2 linked regions of the Homo sapiens genome follow. The protein of the gene in region 1 interacts with the protein of each later gene in a biochemical or structural test. Each region holds a gene or a part of one and is shown on either strand. Other genes may lie near its edges. The genes, in order: LIMD1 and TRPV4.

Region 1 (2,867 bases):
TTTGCAATTTTCATAATTGGAATATGGAACTTCCTTTTACATGTACTTTATATATTTTCTCTTGATGTATTGAATTTTTTCTTACAAATTTGATTTTTTAATATATTAAGGGTATTAACTCTTAAATACGTTGCAATCTTTTTTCCAGCTTATGATTTACCTTTTCAAAATTTTTTTAACGGCTGGGCACGGTGGCTCATGCCTGTAATCCCAGTGCTTTGGGAGGCCAAGGCAGGTGGATCTCTTGAGGTCAGGAGTTCGAGACCCGCCTGGCCAACATGGTGAAACCCTCTCTCTATTTAAAAATACAAAAATTAGCAAGGCATGGTGGTGTGTGCCTGTAGTCCCAGCCACTCAGGAGGCTGAGGCAGGAGAATTGCTTGAACCTGGGAGGTGGAGGCTGCAGTTGGCTGAGATCACGTCACTGCACTCCAGCCTGGGTGACACAGTGAAACTCTGTCTCAAAAAAAAAAAAAAAAAAAAAATATATATATATATATATATATATATATTTGAACTTGTAGTAATTTTCACTTTATATATTCACACTTACTAATATTTGGTTTCTTCTATTATATGATTTTTTAATGTTTTGTTCTTATGTTGTTTTTACCATTTACTTTAATCCATTTGTCATTTATTTTGTTGCCATTTATCATGATGTAAAGATCAATTAATCTTAAAACCTGACACACTTTATTGAGCAATTACTTCATGCCAGAAACTGCTCTAATTCCCTTACTTGGATGAATTCAATCATTCCTTACAACAATTGTTGTACCTGAGCGAGTTAGAAAAACGCCACACTTTAAGACGAATTAAGAGTCCTTTATTAGCCAGCGACCGAGAGACGGCTAACACTCAAAATTTTCTCAGCCCTGAGGAAAGGGCTAGATTTTCTTTTATACTTTGGTTTAGAAAGGGGAGGGGGGGGTCTAGTTAAAACAATTTTACAGAAATAAAGTAGGCAAAAAGTTAAAAGGATAAATGGTTACAGGAAAGTAAACAGTTCCAGGTGCAGGGGCTTTAAGACTATTACAAGGTGATAGACCCGGGGCTTTGGGCGTTATCAATCAGACGAATTCCTGGGAATTGCGGATATAGCTTGCCACAGTATCTTATCAGTTAATTGCATTCTTGGATGTGCTGGGAGTCAGCTTGCACAAGTTAAGTCCTTGAGGAAGGGGTGCCAGTGAAAGAGCCAAGATGGAGTCTGTCTGGCTGTCTTAGCTAAGGGAGAGTCAATTCAGGTGGAAACAAGGCTAGGTGATTAAAGGAAGAGGGAGAGTCTAAAAACAGGGTTAGTAAAAACAAGGTTGGGCATTACACAATCCCATGAGGTAAATTCAGTTGTTATCCCCATTTTTACAGATGAGGGAACTAAATTGGCTTAAGGTCATGGAGCAATTGAGTTATGAAGCCTGAGATAGAATGTGAGTCTGGGCTCTTGACTCCAAGGCCGTCCTGCCCTGTGGACTCACTGTACCCCAGAAGACACCGCATGAGTAGGTTCAAGGACAATTCCCTGTCTGGGCATGGACGGCAGTCACATCTGCCACTTACCCCTCACCCCTACTAATTAGCAACAAGAAGACCCCATTTCTAGTCCTTATGATGCTTTTACCCACTATCTCTGGGCTCTTGGACATTTCCTCTCCTTTAATAAAATAGGGGTTTAAGTTGCAGCCTGTCTCATAGGCTTTAGGGGGAAAAGAAATGCTTCCATATGAGCAACTGCCACCCATTGTCATGTAGAAGGAACTAAGAGAGGCAAAGTTTGACGTTTCTTTACCAGTTGGGAACCATAAACCAAGGCCTTTGTGACATTCAGTGAGACTGAAAACCAGAAAATAATCTGGCAGAAACCCCATTCTTCTGGGGTTTTTAAAGGCCAAACAAGCCAAAATCAGATTCCAAGGAAACCAATGTTCAGGATAAGGAACCAGCCAATGATGGGTAATATAAATTCATATCTGTAGCCAAGTTTTTCCTATAGTAAAATTGTTATATAACTTTTTACAAAATCTGCCAGAGGCCTTCCAATGGAGACAGTCCAAGCTGCAGATGAAGCTTGTTGGCACATCCAAATAATCTCTACAACCTACTTTTAGGGCCAGCTCCCACTTACAGACCTTTTAATATAGTAGTTAAAAAAAATTTAGGCAGATAGGGTACAGGAGTCCTTGGTAAGGCTTTTCTTTTAATAAAAAGCAGCCCCCAAAACCATTTCTTTTCCAACAGAAAGCAGCCTGAAAAGTCAAGCTGCAAGCATAAATAAGCAAGCTAGAAGCTTGCACAGATAAATGCCGGCAGCTGCACCTGGAAGACAGGTGCATCCAATATGGAAGATTTCGCCTCCCTTCTGTTTGTTGCCATGTGTGCAGGTGTCAAGGCTCTGGCCAAGTAAAAAACCCTATCTGCATAATAAAAGATCAAGGTGGAATGGCCAGTTTCTTCGAGGGCTATGTAAATGGCACACCTGGTCAAACCAATCCCTTGGGCTCTATGTAAATCAAATACCACCTCTTCAAACCCCCTCCTCTATATATCAGTCTGCTTCCCGCCAGGAATGGGGAGATCCATTCGGAGTCCTCCTCCCTCTGCATGGGGGAGCTGTTCTCTTTTTTCTGCCTGTTAAACTTTCTGCTCCTTAACCCACCCACGTGTGTCCGTGTTGTTAATCTTCTTGGCACGAAACAACAAACCTCAGGTATTTCCCCAAACAACGGAGCCGATTCACTTTGATCTATTTGTATGTCATGGAGTCTGGCTTCCTGCCGAGTTTTCAAATTGGGTGTCCCCTCACTTTCACTCCGTCACAGGCTTGCCGTGGACCAAGTCTCATGGGCAACACAGGGCCCAGAACC
Region 2 (3,821 bases), on another chromosome or scaffold:
CTTTGGGAAAGACACTCCAGTCCGTTCTCCAAATTATAGGGACCCAGGTAACAGCTCCTCTTGTTGTCACAGATAGGGTCTGGGGAGCCAAGATAACATTTATTTCATGCCAGTGGGCCCTCTGGAATGCTCCACATCGCCCATTTGGAGCAGAATTCACCTGTTAAAGATTAATTCCGATCTCTTGAGATAAGTGGCTGCTGTTATGAACTCTGGGTACAAGGTTCTGTCTGGCTTTAGCCAACCCTGGGTTGCATTAACAACTATTATGATGGTGGCAAGCCTTTATTGAGCACTTACTGTGTGCCAAGCACTGAGTCAAGCACCCTCAGCACATTTGGATACAAAACTATTTTTGTCTCTATTTTTCAGAGGGCAGAATGAGGTCTAGAGGGTGAAATCTCTTGCCTGGGTTCTCTCAGCTGAGAAGGGGCAGAGCTGGGACCTGAATCCCATTTGTGTGATTGCAAATCCATCCCTTCACCTGTAAGGTGGCCCGTCCCCATTTGTCTGGACCCTCATTGGGGTGCCTGGGGTCATGGGGGAGCTACTCTGCAGTCCAGAGATAGGAACCTGAGTTGGCCGGGTGCAGTGGCCCACACCTGTAATCCCAACACTCTGGGAGGCCAAGGCAGGTGGATCGGTCGAGCCCGTGAGTTTGAGACCAGCCTGGGCAACATGGTGAAACTCTGTCTCTAGAAAAAATACAAAAATTAGCCGAACGTGGTAGCACGCACCTGTAGTGCCAGCTACTTGAGAGGCTGAGGTGGGAGGATCGCTTAAGCCCAGGAGTGAGAGGTTGCAGTGAACTGCGATTGTGCCACTGCAGTCCAGAGCAAGAGATCCTGTCTCAAAACAAACAAAGAGCCTGAACTGCAGACAGGCCTGGGCTTAAACTGCATCCGCATGTTTAAGACAGGCCTGCTATTCCCCGCTGGAGGAGCTCAGGGAAGCCACCTGGCCTCTCTGGGCTTCCATTTCCTCCTGTGTCAAAGGGACTCTCATCCCACTTTGCAGGGATGACCCAAGGCACGTGGATGGGGCTCTGAAGCACAGCTCTTCTGCCTCAGCCCGTGTCAGCTCCCCTTGTCCCCAGGCCCATTCCAGGGCATGTTTTCTTCCAGCTTATCCCCCAGACATCCTCAGAGAGCCCCTCCATGCCAGGTGGGTGGGTGGAAGGTATTGGGGGCAAAGCTAGACTTGCATTTGGGCAAATAATGATATGTTTTCAGCAATGAAATATTTATGAGCATTGACTGAGTGCCAGGAGCTGTCAACTTTTTTTACTTTCCTGATTTAATGCTTAAAAACTAGGGCTGGAGCCCAGCTGCCCAGGTTCAAATCCCAGCTTCCAATAAGTTCCATTATTCCTTTGGCCTCAGTTTCCTCATCTGGACAATGGGGATAAGGTAATGCCTGCCTTGCTGGGAGGTTGTGGACAGTCTTCAGCACAACCTTGAGTGTTTAGTTTAAAACCAGCATCTATTGCCTGTTGTTCACTTTTTTTTTTATTTATTATTTTTAGAGACAGGGTCTCAGTCTGTTGCTCAGGCTGGAATGCAGTGGTGTGATCATAGCTCACAGCAGCCTCGAACTCCTGGGCTCAAGAGATCCTCCTACTTCAGCCTCCCAAGTAGTTGGGACACACCCAGCTTATTAAAAAAAAAGGTTTTTTTCAGACAGGGGTCTCACTATGTTGCCCAGGTTGGTCTGGAATTCCAGAGCTCAAGTAACCCTCCTGCCTTGGCCTCCCAAAGTGCTCAGATTACAGGTGTGAGGGCTGATGTTCATTTTGATGGTGTCACAGCTTCCCCACTGCCGGGGGTGGGCAGGGGCAGGAATGCTGAGCCCCATTTTACAGCTGAGGAAATCGAGACTCAGAGAGGAAGCAATTTACCCAGGGATGCCCAGCTGGCTCATGGCAGAGCTGGAGCTGGAAGCCAGATCTGAGTGACACTGGTGTCCTTGGGTCCACGAAAAGCCCAGTGGCCAGCTTAGCTTCTTGCGTGGAAAGCTACGCTAGGCTCACCCACCTTGGCGTCTGAGCCACCTTAGCTTACCTCCCAGCTCCGCCAGTTGCTGCTCTGTGACCTCAGAAAGTGGCTTAAGCTCTCTGTTCCTGGGCTTTGCTGAGGTCAGAGCTCTGCCAACTTGAGGAGGGATTTGGGTTATTCTGGCTGCTGCTCTTGTTCTGGCCTGGGCTCCTTCAACCTCGGGTGCCCTTGCAGCCCATGAGCTGGCACCCCAGTGGCCGGACAGGAATGAGGAAGGGACAGGGCCTCACTTTCAATGTGACTCTGACTTCCTTCCCACCCCTAGCCCCTTCCTGAGCATTGGTTTCCCCTTTCTGCCCCGAGCCCTGGCCACTGCCGGCTGTGTGACCCCAAGGAGGTTACATCACTTCTCTGAGCATGTTTCCTCATCGGTGAGGGAGGATCACACGAGACCACACCAGGCGCACAGGAAGCCCTTGCCGGTCTCCAGATGAGGTCAGGGCATTGGAAAGGCCACAGAAGGAGGCGGGGGCTCAGGGGACAGACAGGCGGGCCATTGACCAAACGGGAATATCCTTCTATTTCTTTGGTTAGTGAGTAACAGCAGCCCCTCTTGTCCACCCACCCTGCCCCTTGCACAAAGAGCTCCTCAGTCTCACCAGGCGCCCGTTTTCCCCTGAGGGTGGAGTGGCCTGGGTTCCACCCGGTTGACCGAGTGGGCTGGCCACCTTCTGGGACCATTCCCTGTGTGTGTGTTTGTGTACGTGTGTATGTGTGTGTATATTGATGTGCGTGTGTATGTGCGTATGTGTGTCTGTGTGTGTATGTGTATGTGTGTATATGTATGTCTATATGTGTATGTGTATATGTGTATATATGTGTATGTGTGTATATGTATGACTATATGTTTATGTGTATGTTTGTGTATATATGTGTGTATGTGTGTATATGTATGTCTGTGTGTATGTGTGTGCATATGTGTATGTATATACATGTGTATGTGTGTATGTGAATGTCTATGTGTGCATGTGTGTATGTGTGTGTATGTTTGCGTGTATATGTATGTATGTGTGTATATTGTGTGTATGTATGTGTATATGTGTGTAATGTGTATATGTATTTGTGTGTAGTGTGTGTGTGTGTGTGTGTTTATGGAGGGTGGGTTCCATGGGCTTTGGGCTGAGACCCCAGCAGGTGAGGGTGGGACAGGGGGCATGGGGTTGACTGACCCATGGGTCTGGCTCACTCCTGTCCCTGCTTGGCACACAGGAGGGGCTCAGGAATACCTGTAGATAGAGTGAAGGGATGAATGAAGGAAGGAATGAGTGACTGGACAAGCCAGCCAGGCAGGGCATCAGAAGGAAGCACCTGCTCAGATACAGGCTCTGGCTCTGAGACCAAGTGTGCTTGAGTGAGTGTCCTGGTCTTGTTGAGCCTCAATTTCTTCATCTATAAAATGGGCTCACGATAGTTGTCCTCATGAGAGGTGTTGGTCTTATAGGCCAGAAAACCCCACACATAGCAGGTGCTCCGTAAGCTGTCTGTTAAAAAATGGATGGGAGGAAGCTAATTAGTTAGCTGGGCAGAGGTTCGCTTTGGAGACCTGTCTGCCCTGGAGAGAATGACTAAGCCCGTCTTTCACTCCTTTCCTCTGTTCATTCATTCATTCATTCATTCATCCAGCAAATACATCTTGAGCAGCTGCTATGTGCCAGGACCTGTTCCAGGCATCTGGGCCTCAGCAGTTACCAGAAGGGAGTCCCTCCGCCCTAGAGCTTTTGTCCGAGTGACATCATTCCACACGCAGTGCTTTGAGGCCACTTTGTG

Evidence for each region.
Region 2: the proteins of LIMD1 (region 1) and TRPV4 interact in a test that uses a peptide from one of them, tested with the Homo sapiens proteins (one large-scale study listed by BioGRID).

The regions. Positions count from the first base shown.
Region 1 is NC_000003.12:45,684,282-45,687,148, reverse strand, and holds the end of LIMD1 (LIM domain-containing protein 1), read right to left. Parts: 3' UTR 808-2,867; downstream 1-807. UniProt on the Homo sapiens protein: Adapter or scaffold protein which participates in the assembly of numerous protein complexes and is involved in several cellular processes such as cell fate determination, cytoskeletal organization, repression of gene transcription, cell-cell adhesion, cell differentiation, proliferation and migration.
Region 2 is NC_000012.12:109,826,875-109,830,695, reverse strand, and holds part of TRPV4 (transient receptor potential cation channel subfamily V member 4), read left to right. Parts: intron 1-3,093; exon of another isoform or gene 3,094-3,821. UniProt on the Homo sapiens protein: Non-selective calcium permeant cation channel involved in osmotic sensitivity and mechanosensitivity. Activation by exposure to hypotonicity within the physiological range exhibits an outward rectification.